2 separate regions of the Homo sapiens genome follow, and region 1 is linked to region 2. Evidence: fine-mapped expression QTL. A gene starts in region 2. The other region holds a variant in brackets. All regions are shown on one strand. Distances are from middle to middle.

Evidence for each region.
Region 1: its variant is fine-mapped to the expression of SCYL2 in whole blood (INTERVAL, PIP above 0.99).

The regions. Positions count from the first base shown.
Region 1 is chr12:100,320,944-100,328,943 of GRCh38, forward strand. SCYL2 (SCY1 like pseudokinase 2) reads left to right here. Exons shown (of 18, transcript NM_017988.6): 11 at 2,582-2,695; 12 at 5,679-5,811. Among named protein-coding and RNA genes, the nearest start is that of SLC17A8, 32 kb to the right of the region's middle. The variant G/T (reference allele first, on the strand shown) is at 4,184.
Region 2 is chr12:100,259,773-100,275,837 of GRCh38, forward strand. It overlaps SCYL2 (SCY1 like pseudokinase 2), which reads left to right and starts at 7,405. Exons shown (of 18, transcript NM_017988.6): 1 at 7,405-8,020. DEPDC4 (DEP domain containing 4) reads right to left here and starts at 7,307. Exons shown (of 10, transcript NM_001364818.2): 1 at 7,148-7,307; 2 at 3,725-4,121; 3 at 2,492-2,637. The coding sequence starts at 7,304. RefSeq lists enhancers at 7,150-7,229, 7,900-7,969, 7,980-8,039 and silencers at 7,600-7,649, 7,750-7,829.

The DNA.
Region 1 (8,000 bases), 57 kb after region 2:
TGTTGCCCAGGCTTGAGTGCAGTGGCCCAGGCTTGAGTGCAGTGGCACAATCTTAGCTCACTGTGGCCTTGACCTCCCACGCTCTCTCAGGCTCAAGTGATCCTCCCTCAGCCTCCATAGTAGCAGGGACCACAGGAACATACACCACCATGCCTGGCTCATTTTTAAATTTTATCAATCACTTAATTATTAATAGTTCTGAGTGGATACAAACAATTAACTCTCTTACATTTGCCTTTTGGAAGCCTAAGAATAAGTTAAAGCAAATAAAATATATCCAGTGTTCTGATAACAGATTCTTAGTAGTTAATTTATTTCTGTCTTCTAACTATAAATGGATGTCTTGAAGTTTGCCAGTATTTTCAGTAGTATCCTTCCTAATTCACATTTGTGCTTCCGTTTTCCTCAGTGATCCCTTCTCTTATGCTTTGCTACAAGGATCATCTCTCATAAACTGCCTGAGATGTGTGTACTTTAGCCAGTTAGTTCTCAAGCCATTTCTTCTTTTCATTTTCTCATTTAGTTCCCTAGCCCCCAGTCATCCCTCTGTTTTCCTGTTATTCCCAGAATTTGCCAGTTATCATTTCTACTATGGCACCACATTAGTTAACAAGAATGTTTTAAATCTTTTTTTCCCCCATTTCTGAGTTATGCTTGCTTTAAGTTTCAGAATTTGGAAGTACTTACAAATAACAAAAAAAAGAAATTAAAATTCGCTCTCACAGATGACGATGGTTAACATTTTCATATATATCCTTCTAGTCTTTTTTCCTAAACCTATGGATAGACACAGGTACCTACACATTTTAGAACTTGGGATTAGGTGCGGTAGCTCACACCTGTAATTTGAGCACTTTGGAAGACTGAGGTGGGAGGATCTCTTGAAGCCAGGAGTTTGAGACCTGCCTGGGCAACATAGTAAGACCCTGTCTGTACCAAAAATAAAAGATGATAAAATTAACCAGGCATGGCAGTGCATGCCTGTAGTGCCAGCTACTTGGGAGGCTGAGTTGGGGAGGAGGATCACTTGAGCCCAGGATGCTACAGTGAGCTATGAATTTGCCACTGCACTCCACCCTGGGTGACAGAGCAAGACTCTCCAAAAAAAAAAAAAAAAGAAAAAAAAACCCAAGAAAACTAAAAAAAGGGCCGGGCGCGGTGGCTCACGCCTGTAATCCCAGCACTTTGGGAGGCCGAGGCGGGCAGATCACGAGGTCAGGAGATCGAGACCATCCTGGCTAACACAGTGAAACCCCGTCTCTACTAAAAAATACAAAAAATTAGCCGGGCGTGGTGGCGGGCGCCTGTAGTCCCAGCTACGCGGGAGGCTGAGGCAGGAGAATGGCGTGAACCCGGGAGGCGGAGCTTGCAGTGAGCCGAGATCGCGCCACTGCACTCCAGCCTGGGCGACAGAGCGAGACTCCGTCTCAAAAAAAAAAAAAAAAAAAAAGAAAACTAAAAAAAAAAGAATTGGGATTATGTAATACTCTGTCCTCAATTTTCTTCTAAAAATTATTAAACACTCTTTTAAGGCTGGTCTCAGTGGTTCATGCCTATAATCTTAGCACTTTGAGAGGCCAAGGTGAGAGGATTGCTTGAGCTCAGGAATTCGAGACCAGCCTGGGAAACATAGTGAGACCTTGTCTTTACAAAAAATTGAAAAATTAGCTGGGCATGGGCCAAGGTAGGTGGATCACCTGAGGTCAGGAGTTTGAGACCAGCCTGGCCAGTATGGTGAAACCCCATCTCTACTAAAAATACAAAATATTAGCTGGGTGTGTTGGCATGTGCCTGTAATCCCAACTACTGGATAGGCTGAGGCAGGAGAATTGCTTGAACCCGGGAGGCGGAGGATTCTGTGAGCCAAGGTCATGTCACTACACTCCAGCCTGGGCAACAAGAGCAAAACTCCGTCTCAAAAAAAAAAAAAAAAAATTAGCTGGGCATGATGGCGTGTACCTGTAGTCCCAGCTACTCAGGAGGCTGAGGCCAGAGGATCCCACAAGACTGGGAGGTTGATGCTGCAGTGAGCTATGATTGCGTCACTGCACTCCAGCCTGGGTGACAGAGCAAGGTCCTGTCTCAAGAAAAAAAAAAAAAAAAAAATTAAACACTCCTTTCGGTATGTTGTTTTAAAAAACTGTTGTATGTTATCATATGGATATATGTAACAGCTAAGAGAATTACTTGAGAGGAGTATTTTTACATGATTTCATACTTGATTTTCCCTTCTTCTGAGAGATAGCAAAACTTATGTGTTGTTATTTAAAGATAAACGAGGACTTGTGTTATCAAAGAAAGAGATTAGGAATGAGATCAGGGAGTTTGGATGTCATACACTAGTTATTATGACCTAGTATGACTTTGAGTAATGTCTTCTGAGCTTTTTTTCTCATCTGTAAGACTGAAAAGTGATTATAACCATTCATTTTTCAAAGAGTTGTTGAAAGGACCAAATAATATATATGAAAATTTGTTTCAAACTATATGACAGTTTAGCCATGCAAATGCAAAACTTTGTAATATCAGAGAGAAAAGATGAGTCTTTCCCTAATATTGATTCAGTTTATTTTCTTTATAGGAGCTCTGTCTAAACATCATTCCAACCTTTGCAAATCTTATAGACTACCCATCCATGAAAAACGCTTTGATACCAAGAATTAAAAATGCTTGTCTACAAACATCTTCCCTTGCGGTAAGTAATTGCATATTAATTTTTGTTTTTCTTTTCACTTGTCAGTGCTTTAAATCATTTTCTTATTGTTTAATAACCCTTTTATAGATTGTTGATGTATTTCATCTTGGCTGTAGATAACTTGTATATAGTACTATAAAAATGAGCTGTAGTTTTCTTTGATACATAATTTATAATATTGCATTCCTAACCTTACTTGCTGTCCCTTTACTTTGAGTGCTTCAGTAAAAAAGTTGGGTGATTATTTTTTTCTTAATCCTTTTCTGCTTTAACTGAATTTATTTTGTTGTTAGTTTAAAAATATTATGAGAGTTTAACTTGGTATCTAAGCGTAAAAACTTGTTGAAAAGTTTCCTTTTATAAATAGCCTTTATTTTTAGTTATTGGTCTCTAAATGTCTTATTTCTCACTGACTTGCCCACTTCTTAAAAAAGTAGAGTACAAGAAAGCAATAAATTAATGTGAATACAAGTAGGATAAATAGTTGTGCTAAAAAATGTAGACCAAGGAAATAGTTACCTTCTTTGAATACAAAATTTTAACATTCAGTTACTTGTTAGTCAAGGAAGGTAGAATTAATAACAAAGTTTTCATTATCTCATATTGAAAGCAATAAATGTCCCCAGCCTTTTCTCTAACACTAAATATAATAGTTTATCACATTTATATTTCTTTATAGAAGTAATATTGAATGCTGTCTTCAAAATAGCAGCTTTAAAGAGGGAGAAATGTTCTCTTTTGCCTGACCAGTTCTTGATATTGATTTTTGATAACGGACATATTATTAAATTTGCATTTTGTAAAACTAGTTCTCTGGAGATCCCGTCTTTATCTGGTGGAATGTGAATTTAAATAAAAATAAACAGCTTAATAAAATTATAAGCAAAAGTAATTTGAATGATATGATTTTATCTTATAGCCATTGAATCTATTTTAGTTCATTTCTTGGTTGAAAGGCTTTGAAATGGAAAATGTAACACCAAAGTAGAAAAAGAAATCATTACTGAAACAAACAAGTATGAAATGAAATAAAGTCAAGTTTTAGTTCTTATTCTCACTTTGTTACTAACAACCCCTGTGACCTTGAAAAGTCACTGTGCCTCTCTGAGTCTTCACTATCATTAAAAGTAGCTGTTTTCTCTAAAATTCTCAATTTTACAATTGAATTTTTAAAATAGATGGTAGTAATATACAGCTTAAAATTTAGTTTTCAAAATGCCCTTTTAAAGATCTTACAATCATACTATGTACCTTATTTTATGGCAGCATAAATTTATATTAACATACATTTTCTCAAAGTACATGTTGTAGGCCGGGCATGGTGGCTCACACCTTTAATCCCAACACTTTGGGAGGCTGAGGCGAGTGGATCTCGAGCACTGAGTTCAAGACGAGCATGAGCAACACAGCGAGACCTCGTCTCTACTAAAAATAAAAAAATTTAGCTGGATGTGGTGGCATGGTGGGAGCATCACTTGAGACCAAGAG[G/T]TCGAGGCTGCAGTGAGTTGTGATTGTGCTGCTCCTTCCAGTCTAGGTGACAGAGCAAGCCCCCGCCGCTCCCCACCCCGCCCAAAAAAAATCCAAAACCAAAGCAAAGCGAGTACCTGTTCTAGTTCAGTTCTGAGCATATGTAGGGGTATGTAGAAATGGGAAACATGGATACTTAAATGATGTGAATTGCTGCCCAGTTATATGTATGTTTCTTTTTAAGATGCCAACTGGCCGTTAAGGCATGTTGTTTACAAGAAGTTATAATGAATGTATTTATATTTAGAACAGTAACTAGGAATGGATTTACATTTTATATGTCACCTTTTAAGTGGATTTTAGATAGTACTTTCAGTGCTTCTGCCTACCTTCAGAGTGGCAAATAGGAATTCCCAAATTGTATTCATAGTCCTCTATCTCTAAAAGTTTAAAATTCTGACTAGGAAATTCCTGAGTCGTGAGTTAGTATTGTGTCTTAATACTCTTCCCTGAAAATAAAATTTTTAAAAATTCTACACAGAGTTAGGTAAAATCCTCCAAGAGCTATATTTATTCATTACTTACATGACTAATATTTTATATATCCTAAAAGTAAATAAAATTAGTATTCTCGGTTTTGCTTAAAATATATATATATCTCAGTAGAATGCAGCTGTTCCTTTTATAAAACGAATTATGAGTACAAGTTAAGCGTTCAGATACCTTTTTGAATTTATAATATCTCTTGTGTTTTAATTTCAGAAAACAATTGTACATTGTTTTTTAGAAATGGAAATTTTTCCCCATTTTTCCTGTAGAACTATGGTGCTTTATTAGCCAACAAAATTATTTTCTGCCTTTGTTGGTTTACTGTTTTTTGAAAACTGGAGTTTTATTAATACTATAGTCCTGACTTAAAGATATTCTATCTTAAGAAATTCCAAATAGAAGTAGGGTATGATGTATTTATCAAATAGTCAAGTGCATATGGAATTTTGATAAAAGCTTCTAAATAAGAGGTCTTAATAACTGTATATTTGGAAATAGAAAACACATATATGGATACCTTCACATGTTAAAATATTTAGTTTAAAAATGAATTGAACCCAAGTTAGAGTAAAATACTGGAATGTGGGTGAAAATGATCACTTGGTGCAAAGAATGTAGTCCTTTTTATTATTCAAATGTCCCCAAAGGAGTGTTCTTATGATAGTAACACATAATGTAGTAAAAGTTTCTCAAATTCTAATCACTTTAAAATGCTACAAGATTGTAGTCATTCCTTGACTTTAGCTCACTAGTGACCTGGTGAAGCAATCATAAATTCTTTGTGAAACAAGCCAGGAAAATTAGTAAATAAGTGAATTTCCTATGTTGATAAAGGATGAGAGCTTCTAAATCTACATTTATTCTTGAGACTTTAACATATTTATATGAAGATTAAGTTTACACTTAAATATTTTGTTCTAGATTTTGAAAACTTTTAATGACTAATGCAATTTACCTCTTTTAATAGGTTCGTGTAAATTCATTAGTGTGCTTAGGAAAGATTTTGGAATACTTGGATAAGTGGTTTGTACTTGATGATATCCTACCCTTCTTACAACAAATTCCATCCAAGGAACCTGCGGTCCTCATGGGAATTTTAGGTAGCTGAAAATTTAATGTCATTTGATGCTATTTTATCATGCAAATAAATTTTCCAATCTATAAAACAATTATACTCTCCTTTCGTGTATATAGCATTTCATAATTGAAGAATGATGTGATAAATACCATAATATAACTTTTCTCTTTAAGTTTAGCAAAAGCAGTAGAATCTTGACATTTATAAAGGAATAAGATATTTAAGAATTCTAGCTTTACGAATATCATGATAGCATGTAGTTTTCCCCATAAAATGGTACAAAGTGAGAGAGGCAAACAAAGCTACTGGAAATGCTGATACTGGTCTTAGTAGTAATATCTGAGGTTTATTTGATACTCAATTTGTAAGAGGCAAAGTATTTTCTCTGCGTTATGTTATTTTATTCTTCCCCAAATTCAATTAAATAGGTACTATTGTTTCTATTTTATAAGGAAACTGAGGCTCAGAGAGGTAAAATAAGTGATTCAAGATCATATAAGTGGTAAGTGATAGGAGCTGGTTTTCTAATATGTTTAAGTCTTAATTAGTATATTTTGTGGCTAAGTGATATGCTGATGAAGCATGTTAACCTTATAGGACATTCTGTTCTCTCAGCATAATTACAAATTACTAAGAAACTCTGAAATCATTTATATATAGTTAAAGTTATAGAAGTCCAATCTGAAAATGCCAGGGGTCTGCTGCACTAATAAAATAGGCATAGCTATAGAGTCACAAAAACATTTAACAGGTTCATTTTTTATTTAATTTAAGGTTGTTTGCTAATTTTTTTTTTTTTTGAGATGGAGTCTCATTCTGTCACCCAGGATGGAGTGCAGCGGTGCCATCTCAGCTCACTGCAACCTCCGCCTCCCGAGTTCAAGCAATTCTCTGCCTCAGCCTCCTGAGTAGCTGGGATTACAGGCACCTGCCACCACGCATGGCTAATTTTTTTGTATTTTTTGTAGAGACAGGGTTTCATCATCTTGGCCAGGCTGGTCTTGAACTCCTGACCTTGTGATCCACCTGCCTCGGCCTCCCAAAGTGCTGGGATTACCGCCTGGTTCTTTGTTAATTTTTAAGAAAAATTATATTATTCATCCATGTATTCTTAACACCTAATGTAGTGCTTGGCCTGCAGAAACTGCTCAGTAAATATTTGTGGGAATGGTTAGCAAGTATTTATTGTGGACCTCTATAGACATGGAAGGTACTCTAGGGATATCGCATGAATCTTTTGTGCAGAAAGAAGTTTGTCTTCTTGGCTGGATGCAGTGGCTGACACCTGTATTCCCAGCACTTTGGGAGGCCAAGGTGGGTAGATCACTTGAGCCCAGGAGTTCAGGACCAGCCTGAGCAACATGGCAAAACCCCATCTCTACTAGAAATACAATAATTAGCCAGGTGTGGTAGCATGCGCCTGTAGTCCCAGCTACTTGGGAGTCTGAGGTGGGAGAATCACATGAACCAGGGAGGTTGAGGCTGCAGGGACCCATGATCGTGTCACTGCATTCCAGCATGAGCAACAGGGCAAGACCCTGTCTTAAAAAAAAAGTCTTTTTGAGCAGGAGTTTGGCATAGTAGAAATTTGAGCCCTGGCTCTAATCCTGGCTCTGTCAGTTCTTGAGGTGACTTTGAAAAGTTTATTTATCCAATGAGGATGAGACTAACGTCATTTTAGGATTCTTGTGAGACTTCACTGAAACAAAGGGAAAGTAACAAGCATAGTGCTCAGCAAATAAGCATTTAGTAGGTGCCCAATAAAGTTACTCTTTGGGTATATAAGTCATGTGCACATTAACAGAATAATGGGGGATGGTATTTCACAAAGCTTTGGATTATATACAAAACACTTAGAACTCAAAAGCATTCAGAGAATGAGGCGGAAATGTACTCAGTTTACCAAATGAAGGCTTTGTGGATAGATGTAACAAGTGGGGTCTTGAAGATTGAGTAAATAGGTGAGACAATAGGGAAGGATTTTGTGGAATTGAATTCAGTTATTAAATTTCAAACATGTTGAGTTTGATTTGCTGAAGAAGTGAATAAAGGTGTAGGACTTATATTTTGACTGTACCTATACTATACCCTTTGAAATAGATGCCTTGAGTATGATTTCTGAAATATATATTTAGATGTTTCAGAATAGAAGGCCATTCTGTAACCTTACTGCTGCACAATAAGAATTGAACCTGGTTCTGATAAGCTTCT
Region 2 (16,065 bases):
TGTAAATGGCCTGTCTGGGGAGGAGGGAATGAAAGGGTGGGGAACTGCTATTTTTTTGTAACAAAACTAGAACAGCTATTTGAACGGTTACGTTATGTGCCTATAAAACAAGGGTAAGGATAATACTTTTAAAAACCCACATTAGAGTGACAGCTTTCATTCCCTCCTATGTCTTTTTTTTTTTTTTAATGTGATCCTTCTGATTCTGTTTCCCTAACTATAAAATGCAAGTTTTACCCTTCACTTTACAGGCTACTGTAAAATCATGGATAAATATAAAATGCATAACAAATTGCTTAGCACAGAGAAAGGTCCAAAATAAGTGGAAATTATTCTTATTATTACCTATAGAATTTTTTTTTTTTGAGACAGAGTTTCGCTCTTGTTGCCCAGGCTGCAGTGCAAAGGCGCGATCTCCATTTACTGCAACCTTTGCCTCCCGGGTTCAAGTGATTCTCATGCCTCAGCCTCCAGAGTAGCTAGGATTATAGGCACGCACCACGACACCTGGCTAATCTTTGTATTTTTAGTAGAGATGGGGTTTCATCATGTTGGCCAGGCTGGTCTTGAACTCCTGACCTCAAGTGATCCACCCACCTTGGCCTCCCAAAGTGCTGGGATTACAGGCGTGAGCCACCGTGCCCTGGCCTTTACTGATAAATCATATCCACTTTTAGTTTGAAATTTCTAGAGGTACGTCATGACCTCAAGAAAAAATAATGGGAAAAGTTATTTTTTCATTTGTACTAGATAAAAACTGTACTTCTGGGGGACTCTCCTGCTTGCCCTTTAAATATTAGTCTTCATCAGAGTTCTCTTACGGCCAGGCATGGTGGCTCACACCTATAATCCCAGCACTTTGGGAGGCCAAGGCGGGTGGATAACTTGAGGTCAGGAGTTCAAGACCAGCTTGGCCAATATGGCAAAACCTCATCTCTACTAATAATACAAAAAATAAATAAATAAATAAAAAATTAGCCAGGCATGGTGGCACACGCCTATAGTTCCAACTACTCTGGAGGCTGAGGCACAAGACTTGCTTGAACCTGGGAGGCAGAGTTTACAGTGAGCTGAGATCACACCACTGCACTTCTGCCTGGGCGAAAGAGTGAAACTGTGTCTCAATGGCCAGCCAAGGAGGCTCACGCCTGTAATCCCAGCACTTTGGGAGGCCAAGGTGGGTGGATCACTTGAGGTCAGGAGTTCGAGACCAACCTGGCCAACATGGTGAAACCCGTGTCTACTAAAAAATACAAAAATTAGCCGGGTGTGGTGGCGGGCGCCTATAGTCCCAGCTACTCTGGAGGCTGAGGCAGGAGAATCACTTGAACCTGGGAGGCAGAGGTTGGAGTGAGCCAAGATCACAACAGTGCACTCCAGCCTGGGCAACAGAGCGAGACTCCGTCTCAAAAAAAAAAAAAAAAAAAGAGTTCTCTTTTAGTTCTTCTTCTCAATTCTACACCCTTTCTTTGGGCACCCTGTATTTCCTTTATCATGCCAATGTTAACTATTGTTGATAAATCACAGTCCTCCAGTGTGCAAGTCATAGCTAGTCTTGCTTCTGTCATGGTTTGACCAAATGGAGTAAAGGGCCATTAATGAATTTTGTATGTATCTCTCCTAACTGCCCTGGCTATGGTGCTCTTTTATCTGCCATTAGTGGCATTTTAAGGAGAAAAACACAAGTAGATGAAGTAAATAGTAAAGAGGAGTGGTGCAACAGGTAGTTTAGCTAGTTTGTTCTGAGAAAGGGAAAGAGTAGGAAGATGTTTGGGAGGAGTTTACACAATGGACAAAGGATACACTCATTAAGAAGATGGTCTTGCAGGACAAATACTAAGGACTGTGGTGAGTCCGTATGTTTTCTCTTGCAGTGCAGACTATAGCACCTCCAGTTAATCTGGTCACAGTCATTGTAAAAAATGAATTAAGTGTTATTAGATGTATATTGCCTCACCTGTCTTATCTGATGTAATTGCTGTGTAGAAGGAAACTCCTACAGGGAAGAGAAGGAGGGAGTCAACACACTAATACACTACTTAAATCACATTTAAAACGTCAGTTCTTGGAAACAGTAAAAATATTAGTGGTTGCCTAAGGTTAGAGAGAAGGGAGGAATGAGTAGGTAAAGCACAGAGAATTTTTAGGGCACTGAAACTATTCTGTATGATACTATAATGACAGATAATATGTCATCAAAAATTTGTACAAACCCATAGAATGTACAACACCAAGGCTGAGCCTTAATGTAAACTATGGGCTTTGGGTGAAAATGATGTATCAATGTAGATTCATTGATTATCACAAATGCACCACTTGGTTGCAGGATGTTGATAATGGGGAAGGTTGTGTGTGAGTGGAAGCAAGGGGTATGTGGGAACTGTACTTTCTGCTCTATTTTGCCGTGACCTTGAAACTGCTTATAAGAACCTGTTAAAAAGAAGTTAGTTCTTCCTTACCATGTTCTGAAAAAATAATGAAAACAAATTACCTTCTTTTGAAAGCCGGAGAAAAGGTTTCTGAACTGTGATATTTGGACATAAAGCTGGATTCCCATTTATTGTATGAATAAGTTCCTCAATTCTTTCCTCACCAATCTCCTGTGCTAGAGGATTTGAAATCATTTCATATCCTGGTCTGTTAAAAAATAATACGTGGCTCTTTTCATTATACACAGAACCAAAATTTCAAATATATATTTAAATTAATGTATTAAAATTTATTCATACATTCTCTATTTCCAAAAACGATTTCAGGCAGCTTATAATAAAAGATGCAAATAATTCATTTAATAGACTATCACCAAAAGAGGACAAATTAGAATTCTAAATAAAGAAGAAAAGCATATATGCTAATTCTAAGGTTAACATAGTTGTTATGATGGAATAGAAAATTTTTGTTCTGAGTTTCCAGAAAACCTTGGCTTTTAGTACACTGGCTAAGTCATTTTTCAAATTAGAAAGCATATCCATTCCTTAGAAGACATAGTTTTTCCTGGTATAAACTCTGAAAAATTTATGTGATAATGTCTTCAACAACTAAGCAAAACAGAAAACAAAACTGTATTTGCTCTAAGGAAAACAAAATGTTGTAAAGGAAAAGGAATAATATATATTTTTGGTTACAGCAACAGATGCTGCTATATTGGAAACAGTAAAAACTACTGAGATATAATTCACATCCCATAAAATTCACTTTTTTTTGAGACAGATTCTTGCTGTGTCGCCCTGGCTGGAGTACAGTGGCACAATCTTGGCTAACTGCAACCTCCACCTCCCCAGCTCAAGCGATTCTTGTGCCTCACTCAGCCTCTTGAGTAGCTAGGAATACAGGCACCTGCCACCACATCCCGCTAATTTTTGTATTTTTAGTAGAAACGAGGTTTTGCTATAATGGCCAGGCTGGTTTCGAACTCCTGATCTCAAGTGATCTGTCCGTCTTGCCTCAGCGTGGGCCACCCTACCTGGCCAAAAGTCACCCTTTTAAAGTGTATAACTCAGTGTTTTCTAGTACATTCACAAAGTTGTGCAGCCATCACTATTATCTAATTCTAGTCTATTGCATCATTCCAGTTTTAGAGGAAATGCATAAGTGGATTAATTTTCACATGGATTTTTTTTTTTAATTGGCTTCTGAAAAAAGTACACATTCGAGTTTAGCTCAATAAAGACAGTTCTTCTAGGGTCTAAATAAAATATATTACAGTATCTTAGGTAACACTAACCTCAAGGTTTCATTGAACTCATTCTCAGCATCCTTTTGTCTTTTGCAACAATCGTAAGATGATTTATTGCCTAGAAACCTGTAGAGACTAATGTTGGAATCTTCAAATTCTAATTCCTTTTCTTTTTTGAAAAGCTTCTTCATTCCTACTGGTTCAAATACTTTGTGATTCATTAGAACTTGGCAAAGATGAACCCCTTTAAGACAAGAGATGTCATTGCTACTTAGGCACGTGTTTTGCATAAGATGACTTAAGACCACATCGACAGCATCAGAACCAGTGAAACAGTCTTTGTATGTCTGTAAATGATGCCTCCTTCTTTTTATTTCCACTTGGGCCTGAAGAGAGTGAATAATACCATCCCATAGCTGAGTAGCTTGAAAAGGACCAGAGCATCCTGAAAAAAATTAAATATGCATTTCTAACAAATCTAGATTATACAAAAATATGCAAATTTTTCAGTTTTGACAACCTTATGCTTGTTGAAGGCATATCTGCTGGTAATGTCCTTCTTACGTGTCATCTCACATCTTACATAAACTATAGTATATTTACTAAGTTGCACCATGTGGGTCTGCCAATAAAAACAGAGTAAACCTGGGAACTTGCTTTACTGATGTGAAATACATTATTATATGAATTTATATACCCTTATTACATGGTTAACTACTAGTTATACCGAATCTTCAAGAATGTTATTTTAGGGCATATTTAAAAGTAATGCAAATACACTTGAGTATTGATTATTACAGAGTTGTGGCTTCACCAAACTCTTTGCCTTTTCTTTTTTCTTTTTGCCCTTTTGAACAATGGTTAGTTCTTCATTAGGGAGATCAAGGCAAAGAACTAAATAATCAATTTTTTTAATTGTTTAAACCAGCTGTTTAAAAAGTTTGCTAAGGCCAGGCACAGTGGCTCATACCTGTAATCCCAGCATTTTCAGAAGCCGAGGCAGGCAGATCACCTGAGGTCAGGAGTTTGAGACCAGCCTGGCCAACATGACGAGACTCCACCTCTACTAAAAATACAAAAATTAGCCGAGCGTGGTGGCATGCGCCTGTAATCCCAGTTACTCGGGAGGCTGAGGCAGGAGAATCTCTTCAACCCAGGAGATGGAGGTTGCAGTGAGCTGAAATCGCGCCACTGCACTCCAGCCTTGGTGACAGAGCAAGACTCTGTCTCAAAAAAAAAAAAAGTTTGCTGAAAAATGAAAGAGGGTCACATACCCACTTGAGCTGAATACTTGAATATAACCCAATTATCTAAATTATGAAGTGAAACTACCAAACATTGTAGAGATATTGGGCTCTAGAAAGTGCTTCCACTGTTGCTCCCGATTAAGGGGTTTAGATAAAGATGTGCCTTATTTTACATGGACATATTGCATAATGAAAAAAAATTGCCTTATCACATGCTGAACTTACTCTCCAAATAACAGAAATCCCACTTCTCTGGGCAAAAAGAAAAAAAAATTGCTGAGAAATAATGAAAACCTAAAAACAATCAAAATGTCTATTACTGGCCAGGTTCAGTGGCTCATGCCTGTAATCCCAGCACTTTGGGAGGCTGAAGCAGAAGGATCGCATGAACTCAGGATTTCAAGACTAGCTTGGGCAACACAGGGAGACTCTATAAAAAATACAAAAAATTAGTGGGGCATGGTGGCGTGCTCCTATAGTCCCAGCTGCTCAGGAGGCTGAGGTGGGAGGATCACTTGAGCCAGGGAGGCCGAGGCTGCAGTGAGCTGTGACCCTGCCACTGCACTCCAGTCAGGGCAACAGAGTGAGACCCTGTCTCAATTAGAAACAAAAACAGTTGGCCAGGCGCAGTGGCTTAAGCCTGTAATCCCAGCACTTTGGGAGGCTGAGGCAGGTGGAGGTCAGGAGTTCAAGACCACACTGGCCAACATAGTGAAACCCCATCTCTACCAAAAATACAACACAAAAAAATTTAGCTGGGCATGGTGTCGCACGCCTGTAATCCCAGCTACTTGGGAAGCTGAGGCAGGAGAATTGCTAGAACCAGGAGGTGGAGGTTGCGGTGAGCCGAGATCACGCCATTGCACTCCAGCCTGGGCAAGGGAAAAAAAACAGTCTATTACCTGAAAAAAACAGTTAAATAAATTATGGTATACCCTTACTATAGAATAGTAGCCAGCCATTAGAAAGAATGAAGTAGAGCTATGTTTATAGTGTGCAAGGATCTCATTAAGTAGGGAAAAAGAAAAACCCAAAACAAAAATTTTTTAAAAATGAGCTGAGCAGAACAACTTGTATATTATTATCCTACTTAGGTAAAAATGAATTCCCAACCTATGTAAAAATGTATGTAAATAAATAGAAAGATCTGGAAGAATAAACTTCAAACGAGTAACCTTGGGGAAGAAGGATTGTAATGGTGGCTGATGAAAGAGGATGTACCCTTTTAAAGTGTACAATTCAGTGTTTCTAGTACATTCACAAAGTTGTGCAGCCATCACTATTATCTAATTTCAGACCATTGCATCATTCCACAAAGAAACCTATAGTTCGCAGTCATTCTTCATTCTTCCGTACCCCAGTAAAATTTTAATTAAAATTAAATTTAATTAAAATTAATTAAAAAAATTAAAGAATGATAAGGGAATAACTTAGAACTTCTAGAATGTTTTTTCTAGATTTGCAGGGGGAAGTGGGTAGAATCCAAGAACTTAAGCTCTCTTCTCCAACTATGCATAACCGCAAAAGTATGCCCAACTATACATATGTTTACGATAAAATGACAGAAATAAAAATCCACCACCCTCAAATTCCTTCTGTAACAGAAGTTACCCGTCTAATCACTCAAGAAATCTTATCCCCAGACATTGTGGGCAGAGCGGAGACTGAGGAGGGGAGGCCAGAAAGTGATGGGCGGAGGTGGGCAGGAGGGTACTCGACGGGGTAGGTGGAAAATACAGCGGTACAGCCTGTTTTCCATAGACAGTCTACCTCTCTAACCTTCATTAAACAAGTAGGCTAGATTAAAGAAATAACTCCTCTAGCTCAAGGAATTTGCCCTCTAGTACATTAACCCCTTGTTGCTGTAAGTGTAGCCTAGGGACCAGCAGCATTGGTGCCATCTGGACATGTATTAGAAACGCAGATTATCAGACCCTACTCCTCAATCAGAATTTGCACTTTCACAAGATCCTAGGGATTCGTATGTATATTAAAGTTTGAGAAAAAACGCTTTCCTGCACGCTCCAAGGGCACTTCACCACAGTAACCCCTAAAAAGCCTCAGTCCTGGGTCCCCCAGTCCAGTGCCTGGTAGGGCAGGAAGGGGGCGGGGCTAGGAAATGGGCGGGGCCCTGGACCAATGAGGAGCAGAGTCCCAGCCGCCTGCTCCCTTCAGCTGCCCCCTCCACCTTCACTGCACATTTGGCTAGGATATACAGGGCTACCTGTCCTCCTTTTCCGGCAGAAGCCATCTCTACGGTTCCTGGAACTTGGCCCGTTCAGCCCTGGGCCCGGAAGCTCGTTCTGACTGACAAGTCTACGGAACCTCGGAGTCAAAAGAACCGCCATAAGCTCGCGCGCTGGCTCCTCCCCTGGCACCATAGCCCCGCCCCACCTGACACCCGGGGCGGAGAGAAGTACTGGCTCCGCCTCTTCCGAACCGGCAGGAAGTGACGTCATGCCCCCGGCCGGCAGGTCTTTTAGTCTTTTTCCCCCTCCCTTACTCTTCGTCCCCGGTCCCTCCCCTCCCCACCCCTTTCCTTCTAGCTCCGACGTTTGCGGCCGCGGGGGCGGCGGAGGATATGGAGTAAAGCCAGAGTCAGTGGCCAGGCACGAAGGCAGAGCAGGAACAGCCAGGAGGCGTTTATTAGGGGGGCGGGGGGAAAGAGCCCCAGCACCGCCCCTCCTGGAAGAAGGAAGAGGTAAGTGACCGGCCGCCGGCACCGACCGACCTCCCTCACCGGCGGCTCTCTCGCCTGGGCTCCCGGAGCCGGCGAGGAGGGAATGGAGGACTCGCGCCCGGGTTAGGCCTCCCAGGGCCGCTCAGGCTGGTGGGTGTTGCCTGGTGACGGGCCTGCCGGCGGCCGGCCGGGCGATCGGCGGTCGGCGCCCGCGCAAAGCGGGGCTGGACGAGCAGCGAGCTCCGGGGAGCGGATCCGAGAGGGCCGAGTCCTCGAAAGAGGCCTTGAGGCGACGGGAGACCCGGGATCGAAGTCAGCTGCCGGAGGGAGAGCCCCCCATGCCGGCTCGAGAGCTCGGGTTTCGGTGGTGGAGAACGTAGTACCTTTCGGGGACATTGGACACTACTCTAGGACCGGGTGAGAGAGTTCACCTCAGTTCTGAGGTCCGGAATCCGGTAGCCTGGGTCACCAGCCAGGGCCCTGCCGCCCGCCGTCCTTCTCTGACAGTAGCTTTAGTTCTGGAATGGAAGGTTATTGTGTGTGAGGTGGGTGGGGCAGGGGTTTTGTTAAGAGAAAAAACCCCACGGTTACTCCTGCAGTCTTGTTTTTCTAAACGGGAGAATACGGATGGAGGAGGGTTTAGACCGATAAAGCTTGCAAAAACTTATTGGACTTTGAGCACATACCTGTGATCCGTAATTAAGGAGGCCATATTATCAAATCCACCCTCTAAGGCACTCGAGGAGGCTCCAGACAAGCTGCTTAAAAGCGCTATGCCTGTAGTGACTTCATTGGAAGGTGTCAACTATTTTTTAGTACGTCAAACTCAGGAATTATTTGTGATGACACTTTCTAAAAACATTGGATACTATGAGTGAGTTTTCTAAGTAGCCTATCTCCGTTCTGAAAAATAAATAGTTTAGCAAAAATGCTCCAAATCAGCCTGCCACTGTAAAACCCCATTATGTTCTGGTGATGGCTTGAAAGTCAGGTGCTTGAAGATTCCTTTTGGACTTTGCAGGTTTGTTGTTGTTTGGTTTGCTGTCTTATTCTTTAGCACAAATATTTTTAAAATATTTAAAAATGAAATCAGCTGAGTATATAAATTACTTCTTGAGGCAACATTAAACTGTAATCATAAAGAATGCTTTTGGGGGATTGTGTAAAGGAAGGGAACCTAATGGAAGGTAAGGGCCTTCATTCTCTTTAGATTTACATTACTCACATGCAGAAACCTATTTTGTCTCTAAGATTCATAAATACCCAGTAAAATAAATACAGGCACATTGTACTTCTATACTGTGGAATACTTTCTAGACAGATCAACCCTGTTACTGGGAATAACTACTCATATTCACATGTTTGAAATTCATGATATACCTCCCTTCCCCCACCCCAAGAAGAAAAATAGCTCCTCTTACTGTGTTTAACTCCGTGGGTAGCATCACTATCCATTCCTTTGTATAGAAGTTGAAGTTTGACAATTCCTCTGTCGTGCTTCATACTCAGCCTCTCATGAAGTCCTGTTGATTTTGCCTCTTGAATATCTCTTGACTCTTGTCTGCTCTTCGTCTGTAACAGTAGTCCTGTTCCAAGCCACCACCATCTCTCATCCTGACTACTTCCGTAGCCTCCTGATTATGGTCTGCTTGCATCTACTGTGGTCTCCTGTAGTTTTCCAAACAAGACTTAGTGACTTTTTCAAAATGCAGACCTAATAACATTGTCTTAGTGTTTAAAATCTTTCAGTGGCTTCTCACCATTTTTAAGTAAATCGAACACATTAACATGCCCTACAAGCCCTGCATAGTCGGTCCCCTTTCCAAACTCATCTCCACTGTGCTTTCTGACATTCCCTTTCTCCCCTAGTCACCCTGTCTTTTCTGTTCTCCTGCTTCAAGTATGTGGCTTTGGTTATGCTACTTCCTCTGCTTGGAAATGCCCTTCCTTTCTTTTTTTAGCCAATTATGCCTATTCATCATTCAGCTCACTTCAGGGAAGACTTTCCTGATTAGAATACATTCTCCTGATTATATGTTCTTACCACACCATTGAAGAGTTGTCATGTTTATTAATACTTAATAAATTAATTAGATGTTCCTCATCTCCTGATGTGTAAGTGCTGAATGTTTATTAAATGAATGAATTCATTTAATGCTTACTGAATGGGCCAAGAATTGTACTAAACATTTTATCTTATCATCACTGTTAATCCTTATAACAATCACTTGAGGTATAGCTAGCTTTTCCCCTTTTTGTAGATTAGAAATAGTGTTAGGGTGGGTAGTTAGTTGGTGATGGCTCTAGTAAATATTAGAATTGGCATTTGAACTCAGATTTCCTTACCACTGAAGAGTGTGTACTTAACCATGTAACTTAATTTTAACACTTTGCTGTTCATCAGAATCACTTACGGAGCTTTCTCAGGATACAGATATACTTCACCTTTATAGGTTCCGATTCCAAAGGTTTGAGATACTACCTAGGCATCTATGTGGTTTAAGAAGTTATCCAGGTTATTTAGATGTTCACCAGAATTTGAAAACCACTGTCTTAGACAGTACTTGTGTTTTATGAGTTTGTTTTCATACATTGTATTTGAGATTTTATACTTTTTTTTTTTTTTTGTGAGACGGAGTGTCACTCTGTCACCCAGGCTGGAGTGCCGTGGCGCGATCTCGGCTCACTGCAAGCTCCGCCTCCCAGGTTCACGCCATTCTCCTGCCTCAGCCTCCCGAGTAGCTGGGACTACAGGCGCCCACCACCAGGCCTGGCTAATTTTTTGTATTTTTAGTAGAGACGGCGTTTCACCGTGTTAGGCAGGAGGGTCTCGATCTCCTGACCCTCGTGATCCACCCGCCTCGGCTTCCCAAAGTGCTGGGATTAAAGGCGTGAGCCACCGCGCCTGGCCGAGATTTTATACTTTCTTAAATTAAGGAAGAACTGTAGACTTTAAGGAAGTGATCATTTAATCTAATTTCCTACTCAGTTATTCCTTGTCCCTCTTCTCTAGCTGGAAGGCCTGAATAGTGAGAAACTGTCACCCCTCTGCTACTGCTTTAAAAAAAAATTACAATAATTTCAAGAATCTGATTAACTTCTTGTTGTAAAAACTATAGTTCACTAAATACATGGGCTGGAAGTAGCTTCAAAAAACTTGGATGTAATCTTTCCTCAGATCTTACTTATTGTTTAAATTACTAATTTGATATTTAAGCGTATGTTGCCTGAAATTTCATGTTGCTTTCTTTTTTTTTTTTTTTTTAATATTTTTATTTACATAGAGACAGGGTCTCACTATGTTGCCCAGGCTGGTCTCGAACTCCTGAGCTCAAGTGATCCTCCTGCCTTGGCCTCCCAAAGTGCTAGGATTACAGGCATGAGCCACTGGCCTCATGTTGCTTTTTAAATCTTAAATCTTATTGTACAGTGGTCTTAAAATTTGTGACCAGTGACAGAAACTGAATGTTTTACTTCTTGTTTCTCCCCCTGCATTTAGCATGGTGCTTTTCATCTAGTAGGTACCCAATAATTTGTGTACTAACTTGGCTGTACATTGCTAAGTCTTTTCAGTTTTTTATGTTCGTTTTTAAAATCAGGCTTGTCTTCTGTAATCTGTTCTGGCTTAACTATGTCTGATAATTAGATACTCTTTGTAATTGTAAAGAGAATGATTATACTCAGCTGGTTTAATCTTTGTTCTGTATAAGATTAAACATGATTTCTGTATAGAACAAAGAAGAGCATTATCCAGTTTTTGAAAACTTTCTTTTAAAAAACTTCTAGTAATCTCTGAGTGCTCCCACAAGCAGAAATGTATATTTCAAGAATACATCTTAAGGCCAACTCTGGCCTTAAAGTTAGCCCTGCTCCTTGCAGAGCAGCAAAAAAAAAAAAAAAAAAAAAAGAGAGAGAGAATATATCTTAAGATCATCTTTCTTTAGATACAAACAGGTAAGTACTGCATATGGGAGTATAAGCACACGTATTTTCCCCCAGATTTTGTGAAGTATTTAACCGTATTTCATGTCTTCTGAATGTAATTCTTGAATGTAATTCTTAATTAGAATTACAAAAATTCATTGAATAACTATAAATGATGATATAAATGGTATTCTCTTATTTTCAGGCATTTACATACAAATCTCAGACCTTTGTGCCCCTTTAAGGGATAAAGCAAACTATTTTGAGTTTCTTTGTTTTATATTGTTGTTCTTTGTAGTCAGTGTCTATTATTTTGTGCTTTTTGAAAGTCTAGTCTCTGCTAGGTGCCATGAGACTGAAAGTTATTAAATGTAACTTCATTGCCAGATGTAATTACGGTAAGCCTTTTATTTGCATTGCAGTGACTTCAACAAAAATGGAAGCTCATTCTGCTTTATAATATTTTATTCTTGGGATTGTAAGCTTGGGAAGCTGGGGAAAAAAGTAAAAATATATTCTTGGGGAAGTATAGGACTGTTTGTAGTCATGTTATTTGAAAATTCAGGAAGTCTTTGTTAAGCATAAATATAATTTTACCTGTTACATTTCTTGCTGTATCTAGAATTCATGAGCAGGCAGGACTGAAAGAATTGCCAGTTCCTTTCAGCTACCTGCTGTCAGATGCTGTAATACTCATCCTACTTTCTGCCAGGTGCACGTAAAATCTAGTATTACAACAGATTCACATGCTGGTTCTATTGAAAGCCAGGTGATGGCTGAGCTAGATGGTAGAGAGATACACAGTCTTGGAATCATACTGAAGCTACCCCAAATCCTATTTTGGCTGAAATTTAGGAAGGGCAGATGATTGAATTTCAAGTGAATTATAATAAATGGTGTACAATGAGAAATGCCTTACATGACTAAGAATTTCCATCATTTATAACTTTGTCATTGGAAAATATAGGCTTTTTTCTTCATTAATCAAAGGAAAAATGAAAAGCTATCATTTTAAGAAAAGGTATTTGGACTCTTAGGTTTCTTATATGTCAAATGGCTATGCTAATAATTCAAAATCTCGTTTAAGTTCAGGTCTTATTTTACAGGCTCCTTGGAGATTACTCTGTCCTTGGCCTTCTGTAATTTTCATGGTATTCTTGGGTGATATTTTTCAAGGCCATAGTCTACCATACTGGCTCATCGTGCACCAATTTTTACTTTCAGTCTGGACGGTTTTTTCTAAGTTTTTGGCCTGCATGTCTAAAAACCTATTAGATATCTCCATCTGAGTGTCATTCAGGCAGCTCAAATTCTACATGTCCAAGTTGAGTTCTTCCCCTATAAAACAACTGGCTTCTATATGTCGTTGGTAAATGGCTTCACCTTCCACCTAGACTGTGAAATTGGGGGTGGGGTAGGATTCTTAGTTTCGTTCTTTTCTTCTCTTGGTTTTAACTTGTTTCTTAATTTTTCCTTTCTTCTCCTTTCTCACTGCTATTTTTGTAATTCAGCAACGCTTCTCCCTTTAAAAATTTGTTTAAAATGTGAAATATAACACATAAAAGTATATAACGTAGTTTAACATGTAAATACAAAATAAATATCTGTATAACTAGCACCTTTGAAATACCTCCTTTACCCACCATCTCTTCTCTATCTTCCTTGACCATATTTCCTTTATTTTCTTGCTTTTATATATTCTGAATTATAAATATCCCTGAATTGCATATTGAAGTTCTCTTCAGTCTTGCCATATTCTCAGCCTCCACCTTTAGTATATCTTTCACTCTGCTTGATAGAGTGATTGATCATCTTACTGATGCCTGAAACCCTTCTGTGGCTTCCATAGCTTGATTTCTTACTACTCAATGTCCTTGGTGATCTGGCTTTTTAGCCTCCTTTGCCATACTTTCTTCTTTTTCTTCAGCTTTTAACTGAACTTGGTTTTTGCTTTGTGATTTTACTCCTACAATTCTCCTATTCTCTATCCAGTTTACTCCTCTAGCATTACTGTTTTTGGGAAACATTCTATTCCTCTTCTTTTTGTTCCTATAACACTGTGCATGTATATTCTGTAGCGTTTTATCACTCTGTAGGCTAGTGCTGTGGTGGTTTTACTTGTCTGTCTTCTCCCTTTGATGTAAGATTTTTCATAGCTTATTTTTCATTTACTTCCTTCCCAGTTTCTCATATGGTATCAGATACATAGTGGATACTCAGTAAATATTAAACCACCAAATGAATTTCCATGCCTGTTCTTTGCCATACGTACATCAGTGTTGACTCTGGATGATGGATAGCATCTCAAATTTGAATATCAATTCTGAAAATATGCTTTGTTTTCATATGTAACTGTAGTTTGCAGACCACACCATAGTCTTCCTCCCTTACATATCTTGGCACGTGGTATTATAATCCCTTCTGGAATACTCCTTCCCCCCTTACTTTATAGTTTTGAGCCCATCTTAATATTTCCATAGCATGTACATTCTTACCACAAGTTAATTGCTGTAACTCTTTGGAGGACTGAGTCTGCTATTGGACGGAGTCCCTAAAAAGAAGAACCTCTGTATTCTCAGTGTATAACAAGATGCACGGCATTTAATATATAGCTTGTCAGGCAGCGTTAGAGGAATAGATATGTATGGTTTTAAATAGAATTTTGTATCCTTTCACCTTCCCGTCAAAATCAACAGCAGATGTTCATAGAGAACAACTTGGCATAGCCAGTAAATGTTTTCATAATGCCAGTAGCAACATTTTCTAGCTGCTTACAAAAATGCAGCATTAAATTAAAAAGGGAAAGTCAGTCTCCATTTCCATTTACAGACAGTTCAAATCTTTAATAGAAGAAAGTGGGTTATATTTACATAAGTATAATTTCGTTAATAGAGAAAACAGGATACAAACTACCTGAGATCAGTGGTCTTCAAATATTTTTGCTTGTGTATCCAATAATTTTGAATAACATGTGCTCCTCTTGCACATTTTTTAAGTTGATCACAGCTGGAGTTTTTTTGTCAAGAGTTTAAATAGTTGCAAAAGATCTAATTTCTAAATTGTCGTATATTGTGATAGTGCTTTACTTTATCAAAACCTTGGAGTTTATCAATTGAAATAAATGTGTTCCTATATATCTCTGTGACAACCATCTTCTTAACTGTAGTTCTGTGGTAGATAAGGCGTGGGTTCTTGTTGTTATTAACATCTGTCCTGAAAGAAGCAAGGTACAGCCTCCTTTAGTATTTCTTATCAAACTTCCTTGTGCTTTACTCTTAAGTGGCTTTCTCATAGAATTAAATCTACAGATTGCATCCCCCTCCTCCCACAAAATTTTTTTACACCTAGGAAAATGGCCTACAGTAACACTGGGATGGCTGAGAGAAATACTTTGTTTTAGTCAAGTGGGAAAAAATTGTGAACAAAGAAGTGGTTAAGGAAAATCTTCAGGACATAGACTTGTTCTCAGGCAAATCAATTTTAGGAAAGAGTACACCTGGAAGTTGACAATTTGGAGAGCGATAGGGCTTTAAAACCTTGGTTTGTGCCATAGACCCTTTTGACAATTTAGTAAAGCCTGTGGATCCCTTCTCACAGTAATATTCTAGAATCAGTTTGTCACTTTCTACAGAAAGCCTGCTGGGATTCTGGTTGAATTGCATTGAGTTTCTAGATTATTGGGGATAACTGACACATTAACCATATTGAATCTTCCAATTCATGATCACAGTATATATCGTTCCATTTATTTAGGTTTTCTTCAGTTTCTGTTAGCAGTATTTTGTTTTCATTGTATAGATCTTGCATAGCTTGTTAAATTTATTCATAGGTATTTCATACCCTTGAAACAGTATTTTTAAATTTTAAATTTTCTAGTAGAAATACATAGAAATGCAATTTCTTTTTTTTTTCTTTTTTTTGAGACAGGGTCTCACCCTGTCACCCAGGCTGGAGTGCATTAGTGTGATCACAGCTCACTGCGTCCTCAACCTCCCAGGTTCAAGTGATCCTTCCACCTCAGCCTACTGAGTAGCTGGGACTGCAGACATGTGCTACTGCTCCTGGCTAATTTTTAAAAACTTTTTGGAGTCTTGATATGTTACCCAGGCTGATCTCAAACTCCTGTACTCAAGCAATCCTTCCACTTCAGCCTCCCAAGGTGCTGGGATTACAGGCATGAATTACTATGCCCAGCCTAGAAATACAATCTTTTCAAATATGTTGTTCTTGTATTCTACTATATTGCCAAACTCATGTATTCATTCTGATAGCTATTTTGTAGATTGATTCCTTCTGATGTTCTGTGTATGCAGTTGTGTCATTTGGGAATAAATTGTATTCTTTCTTTGCAGTCCGAATGCCTTTTATTTCATTTTCTTGCTTTATTGCCTTGGTTAGGACCTTTACTGGAATATTGAATAGAAGTGGTAAAAGTGGGTATACTTACCTTGTTCTGAAACTTAGGGAGAAAAGTGGTTAGTATTTTATCTTTAAATATAATGTTAGCTGTAATTATTCAAAGATGCTATTTATCAGGT